2 linked regions of the Homo sapiens genome follow. The protein of the gene in region 1 interacts with the protein of each later gene in a pairwise test. Each region holds a gene or a part of one and is shown in the gene's direction. Other genes may lie near its edges.

Region 1 (3,828 bases):
ACTCCCCTCTACCTACAAAATGGTGCTACAACTGTACCTTCATTTGATATCAAACTAATTTGAGATTTCAACCGGTTAGAAAATAAAGCAACTCATTTTGGAGATCCAAATAAAATTCTATGACAATATATGGAATATTGAAGAACATAAAGCTGTGTTTTAAGGGATGTTAAATACTAAACGAAACTCAACCCAGAGCAGCATAATGCTGAGTTAGCAAATTTAAATCCAAGGCAGAAAATGCAAGCCTAGGAGTTTGTTTTAATAGTATTACTAATATGGTGATAATTCATTGAGGTGGGAAAAGGCTTTAAACATAACAGAAGACCCAGAAGTTCCAAGGAAAAATCTGAAAAATTTCAGTACATAAAAATAAAAAGCTTTTTTATGGCAAAGCTTAAAAAAGAATCCTTAAATGACAAACTGAGATAAAATACTTCTATCATAAGTGATTCACGTTCCAGTAAGAGTTTTACCCTGCCAGGGAAGCTGAGGCAGGAGAATCGCTTGAACCAGGGAGTTGCAGGTTGCAGTGAGCCGAGATCGCTCCACTGCACTCCAGCCTGGGGATAGAGTGAGACTCTGTCTAAAAAAAAAAACAAAACAAAACAAGAAAAAACTTATACTCCCTTAGGAAAATGCCTAAGACAAGCAATTCACAATAAACAAAATGCAGATGTTCAATAAGCAAGAGAAAAAGTATTTAGCCCTTCCTGCAGTAGCTTGATTTTATGGGGGAAAAAAAAAAGTACCTAGCCTTGTTTATAATTAAATACTGTCAAGACCGCTTACGGTGGCTCACGCCTATAATCCCAGCACTTTGGGAGGCTGAGGCAGGCAGATTGCTTGAGGCCAGGAGTTTGACACCAGCTTGGCCAAATGGCACAACCCGTGTCTACCAAAAAATTAGCCGGGTGCAGTGACTCCTGCCCATAGTCCCAGCTACTGTGGAGGCTGAGGCACGAGAATCTCTCGAATCGGGGAGGTGGAGGTTGCAGTGAGCCAAGATCGCGCCACTGCACTCCAGCCTGGGCGATAGAGCGAGACTGTCTCAAAAAAAAAAAAAAAGTCAAAAAAAATTTATCAGATTGGTGAAGAGTTCAAAGTTTTATTAGTTTTGCAAAGGTATTTACCTTTTTGAAATAGGTAAATTTATACAATTTTGGAAGACTTTTTTTTTTTTTTGAGACGGAGTTTGCTCTTGTTGCCCAGGCCGGAGTGCAATGGCGTGATCTCGGCTCACCACAACTTCCACCTCCCAGGTTCGGGCGATTCTCCGGCCTCAGCCTCCCGAGTAGCTAGGATGATTACAGGCAAGCGCCACCACCCCCGGCAAATTTTTTTCTATTTTTAGTAGAGACAGGTTTTCTCCATGTTGGTCAGGCTGTTCTCCAACTCCCGACCTCAGGTGATCTGCCCACATCGTCCTCCCAGAGTGCTGGGATTACAGGCGTGAGCCACCGTGCCTGGCCCGGAAGACTCTTAATTTCAGTGTAAAACCATTTGGCAGTATCAACTGTCATTTACAACTGACTTCTCAGTGTTTTGTTTTGTTTTTGAGACAGTCTCACTCTGTCACCAAGGCTGGAGTGCAGTGGCGTGATCTCAGCACACTGCAACCTCCACCTCCCAGGTTCAAGCGATTCTCCTGCCTCAGCCTCCCAAGTAGCTGGGATGCCTGGCTCGTACAACTTTTGACTCACAATTTCAATTCTAGGGAATTGGCCTAGAGAGATAGTTTGCTTAAGGACTATGGGCAAGCATTACTGGAAATAACAAAGCAACAAACTTAATCTAAATATGTATTGATACAAATCTGTTCATTGTATTAGGTCTAGCCATGCAATAAAGTTCTTGAAAGAAATGAGATAGCTATTTTTGGTGCCGAAAAAGACTTCAGAAAACCTCTGAAGTGAAAAAACAAAGCCGAAGTAATTATCACTGGCAGAGGAATAGACAGAGATTTCTCAACAGTGGCAGTATTGACATTTTGGACAGGATAATTCTTTGTTTGCGGATGGGAGCTCTCCTGTGCACTGTAAGATTTTTAGCAGCATCACTATCCCCTGCCCATTAGATGCCAGTAGCACCTTGCACCCCCACACCCCAGTGTGACAGCCAAAACTGTCCCTGGATATTGCCAAATCATGGTTGAGAACCATTGGGATAGACAAATAGATTAGTACTTAGCCTTATTTATAATTACATAGCCCAGAAACAGACACCAATGTATATATAGAAATAATGTGTTTCAGAGATAGAATTGAAGTACATTGAGGTAAATATGGACTGTTGAATTAATGATCATTTTGTTACACCTTTGGAAATAAATTATACTAGATGTCTACCTTATGTCAATATATAGACAGTCACTTCTAGGTTGAGCAGTGTAGTGAGACCCTGTCTCTGCAAAAATAAATATTTAAAATAATAGCCATACTTGGTGGTGGGTGCCTGTAGTCCTATCTTACTCAGGAGGCTGGGGTGAGAAGATCGCTTGGGCCTAGGAGTTCAAGGCTGCAAGTGAGCTATGATTGCATAACTGCACTCCAGCCTGGCTGGGTGACAGAGCAAGACCCTGTCTCTTAAAAAAAAAAAATAGTCATTTCTAAGTGTATTCTTACCTAGATGTATATGTAAATATGAAATGCAGAACTTTAAATTTTTAGAAAAAAATATGGAATATTTTATTTTTCCAATCTTAGATTAAGGAAGAAATCCTTAAAAATATATAAAAGCAAATACATAATGAAGATTGATAAACCGAATGATATTGAGGTTAAAAACCTATGTTAATCAAAAGATCGCACCACTGCACTCCAGCCTGGGCAACAGAGCGAGACTCCATCACTAAAAAAAAAAAAAAAAAAAAAAGGAAGTCAAATCTTGGGTAAGGGGGAACTACTGTACTTACATTTACCCATTTATTATAAAGGCAATTACAAAGGACACAGATGAATTAACCCGATGGAAGGAGATGTACAAGGTGAGACAAAGAAGGAGAGAAGAGGAGAAGGGGCGTGGAGCTTCAGTGTTCAGCTATCTGAGAGCTCACAGAACTCAGTCCTTTTGGGCTTCTATGGAAGTTCATTAAATAGGCAAGATTGATTAGATCACTAGTCATTGGTTTATGGACTCAAGTTTCAGCTTCTTTCTTCCCAGAAGTGGCGGCTGGGGGTAGGAATCAAAGTTATAACCCTTAATCACTGGGCTGATTCCCCTGGCTACCTAGCCCCCATCCTGAAGCTATCTAGGGGCCCCCAGGCACCAGTCATCTGATTATTGTACAAAACAGTCATCACTCCAGAGATTCCAAGGATTTTAGAAGCTATGTCAGAAAATGGGACAAAGACCAAATATTAATATTTTTTTTATGATATCACAGATGGGAAAGACAAACTAGAAAAACTTGCTTTAACTCTTCATTTAACACCTCTCTGTAGGGTTTGGCTTTTTAAAATCCATGTTCATATATTTTTGATAAAAGCATACTTATTATAAGTTTAGTTTAAAAGCAAAAGTTTAATTTTGTGTTAATACTTAGAATACCAGGTTTTTTTTCAACCTAAAATGAGAATCCAATAGAAATGTTTTCTTTATAATTTATCAAGTATACCAACAGATTAACAACATTTCAAGACACTTTGTTGTAAACTTCATTGCGGAAGGCTCCCTTGGGAGTAAGGTAGTAGTAACATTTATTTCTGTGCTTTTCCATATTTATTCTGTCAGGTATTGAAATGTTTTTCCACAGGTTGCTTTTTGTTTTAGAGGTATTTCGGGTACTTGGAGAATTGTAAATATTATGTTTTGTACCCTGATTTTTAG
Region 2 (3,828 bases), on another chromosome or scaffold:
ATTGTGAAGTGTCTGTTATACTATCCAGAGGAGTCGGTGCACTCTATGAATCAATTTACTTAAAAATAAAACTGTGGAAAGACTAAACCATAGGGAGAAACTCCAGTGTTAATCAGGTTACAGTTAATCAATAAACATGACACTTTAGTAAAAATGTTTATTTCTATATTATAGGTTTAGTCTTCCAACTGACAATACATTTTACATCGGAGTACAACTATGCTCCTCCAGTTGTGAAATTTATAACAATTCCGTTTCATCCAAATGGTAAGAACTAAATGACATTTTTATCATTAGAGGCTTTGTCCCTATTATCCTTGTTTCTTATAATAATCATGTTTCTTTTTAAGAACTTTATTATGATTCTAAAAGTAAGAACTCTCATTGGGGAAAATATGAAAAGGCTGGAAAAAATTAGCAATCACCTTAAATCCTAATGCAAAGAGAAAATACTGTCAACATTTTGCCAAATTTATTTTCCTTTTTTCTAAGTATGAATTTTTTCTATACAGTTGAGGTATTATGCATGAAGTTTTGCCTCTAGGTTTTTGATTTTATTTATTTTATGGTGTTTTTTTTGAGACAGAGTCTCTCTCTGTCGCCCAGGCTGGAATGCAGTGGTGTGATCTCGGCTCACTGCAACCTTCACCTCCCAGGTTCAATCGATTCTCCTGCCTCAGCCTCCCCAGTAGCTGGGACTACAGGCATGCGCCACCACACCTGGCTAGTTTTTGTATTTTTAGCAGAGATGGGGTTTCACCATGTTGGCCAAGCTGGTCTTGAACTCCTGACCATCCGCCCACTTTGGCCTCCCAAAATGCTGGGATTACAGCTGTGAACCACTGCGCCTGGCCTAGGTTTTTAATTTTAAAACTATATGTCTTTTTTCTGCATTATTAAACAGTCTTCAAAAGATCATCTTAAATGGTTCAACAATACACTTAACCATTTCTGTATTGTTCAATATTTTAGTTGGATCTAATTTTTCATTATTATAAAAAAACGATGCACTGGACAGATTAACTTTTTTTAAATAAAAGGTAAGTTAGATTGCTACTTAAAGTTATACACAAAACCAATTCCTGAAGGATCAAAAATCTAAAAATTTTAAATGCTGGAAAAGAAGGAAATCTAATAGAATTTTTATGGGCTTGGTGAGGAAGACGTTTCTCAGCATGATAAAACCCAGTAACTGTATGGAAAATATGACACATTAAACTGCAAAACCTGTTAAAACTTCTCTACGGCCCAGGACATTATACTCAGAGGTCAAAGACACTGACTTTTGCAAACTGAGGGAAAATATTTGCAATGCATGTAACAGAATATGTATACCATATGAAGAACACTTGTCAATCAATATAAAAAGAACATAAAGCAATTAAAAAATGGAGAAAGGCTATAAACAAACACTGGACAGAATAAACAACAAAAATAAACATAAAAAGATTATCAATCTCACTACTAAGAAAATAAAAGCAAATTAAAACAAAAAGTATTGTTATTTATCACATATTCATAAAATGTCAAAATATAACATACATATTTAGTAGGCATGGGCAGACATTGTTCCTCTGATATAATCATGACCTTTTGAGGAAGTAGTGTGACAGTTTCTAATCAGGTATAAAATGCATATATCCCTAAATTCCCGTAATACCATGTTTATAAACTATTCTGTAGAAATATTAGCACAAGTGTGCAAGAGTGTGTTATATTTAAAGACGTTTATTCCCACCAGGCTCAGTGGCTTATGCCTGTTATCCCAGTACTTTGGGTGGTCAGTGGGGAGTATTGCTTGGGTCCAGGAGTTTGACACCAGCCTGGGCAACATAGTGAGACCTGTCTCTACAGAAAATAAAAAAATTAGCTTGGCATGGTAGCATGTGCCTGTAGTCCCAGCTACTTCAGGTCTGAGGTAGGAGGATTGCTTGAGCCCAGGAGGTCGAGGCTGCAGTGAGCCATGATTGTGCCATTGCACTCCAGCCTGGGCAACAGAACAAGACGCTGTCTCAAAAAAAAAAAAAAAAAAAAAAAAAAAAAAAAAAAAAAAAAAAGATGTTTATTCCCAACAGCAATGTTAGAAATAGGAAAAATGGAAATAACTTCAATCTCCATTAACACAGGAATTTTAAGTGAAATATCCTACAGTTACGTGTATTGCTTCTAAACAGAACGAGGAAGGTCTACGAACCTTTTAGGTCTAGATCATTGCTATATCCTTAGAATCTTCACTGCGTGGCATATAGTAGGTATTCAGATATTTTTTGAATAAATATTTGTGTCCAGAAATATGTTGAAAATACATTGTTAAGTGAAAAAATACATTGAACAATAAAATGTAAAATATATTCCCATTTAATAAACACACACATATGGGTGTGTATACATATATGTGTTTGTGTGTATATTTGTATAGACCAACTGGTAATATTGGTCTTGAATAGTAGAATTAGTAGGCAGGGGAACATTCATATTTTACATTAGATTTTTTATGTTTTTTTCCCAAGTACATTATTTTATTGTAATTAAAACCTATTTTTGGTATCTATAACACAAAATTAATTACATACGTGTGCCTTTATTTGTTTAAAATAGTTAGAATTATTGGATTAAATTCAATGGGGGGAGGTACTCTTATCCCCTAGTCCTCATCCCTCCCACTTCCATAAAGTAGAGGGAACTTTAGTCTCTAGGAGGGGGAAGGTATAGGAAAACTTGTGACTGCTCTTTTTTTTTCCCCCATCACTCCTCCTAGAAGTCACTTATCTGATTAGGGAGATGAAGGAAAGAATTGAGCATATGTGGCCCAGAACTTGCTCAACACTCTCTCCTTCTGACCATACTGGGTATAGTCTCTTTTGCTCCAGGCAGGAAACTTAGGCAGGCCTTCGGTTTGGGAGTTAAGTTTAAATCAGGGGGACTTTTGTGGAGCCTGATTAAAGCCATTCATCAAGTGCGTTCTCCATTTCAGTCTTATGTGCAATGAAGCTGATGTTTTTACTTCCACCTTTCAATACTTTGATCTATTTTATAATTACATATGAACTTGAGGGGAGAGAAGGGTTATTTACTAGCTTTCAACCCCCGCCCCCGCCCGCCCCGCAAAAGATGGCTATGTACAGTTTTAAGTCTTTATATAAAAAGCCAAATTGCCTTTCGGTGGTATTTGTACTCCTACCAAAAAGTACATATAAAGTTCTTATTTTAGCACCTTCCAATTCTGGCCATTGAAACTTTGAAGAAAATTTTTTTGCCAATTTGGTAAGAGTCTTGCTATTATTTTAATAAGCACTTCTTTGAATACTTGAGAAGTAAACATTTCCCACCTTTGTTGATTCTTATTTTGTGACTCGTATGATACAATTGACAGTGCTATCACATTGTCCTAGATGTTGCAAATATTTCCTCTAATTTGTCATTAATTTTCAACTTTGTTTATGCTGTTTTTTCACATCTGGGATTTAGAGATTTTTATGATTTAAAATAAATTTATATTTAAGATCTATTAATCTTGTCCTTTGAGGCTTTTGCAGTTGTCTTTCATCTTAGATGATCCTTTCCCAAAAGAAAATCAAATAGTCATTTTAAGTTTCTTCTAGTCATTCTACAGTTTTATTTTTCTTATTTAACTCTATTATTTTTTCAAACACTAAATTACTTAACTGTGTTAGGGCATATGCCAAGCTCCTGTACATCTTTCCAACTTAACATAACAGGACAACGCTGGAGGGAGGTTGTGCCCATCCTCAATGTGAAGATTCCATTTCTGGGACTAAGGCATTTACTGTTTGTCACCATTTCCAGTCTGGGGGAAGGGGGAAGAAA

Evidence for each region.
Region 2: the proteins of RNF139 (region 1) and UBE2U interact in a two-hybrid assay, tested with the Homo sapiens proteins (one large-scale study listed by BioGRID and IntAct).

What each region holds. Positions count from the first base shown.
Region 1 is NC_000008.11:124,477,553-124,481,380, forward strand, and holds part of RNF139 (E3 ubiquitin-protein ligase RNF139), read left to right. Parts: intron 1-3,828. UniProt on the Homo sapiens protein: E3-ubiquitin ligase; acts as a negative regulator of cell proliferation through mechanisms involving G2/M arrest and cell death.
Region 2 is NC_000001.11:64,206,590-64,210,417, forward strand, and holds part of UBE2U (ubiquitin-conjugating enzyme E2 U), read left to right. Parts: intron 1-174; coding exon 175-267; intron 268-3,828. UniProt on the Homo sapiens protein: Catalyzes the covalent attachment of ubiquitin to other proteins.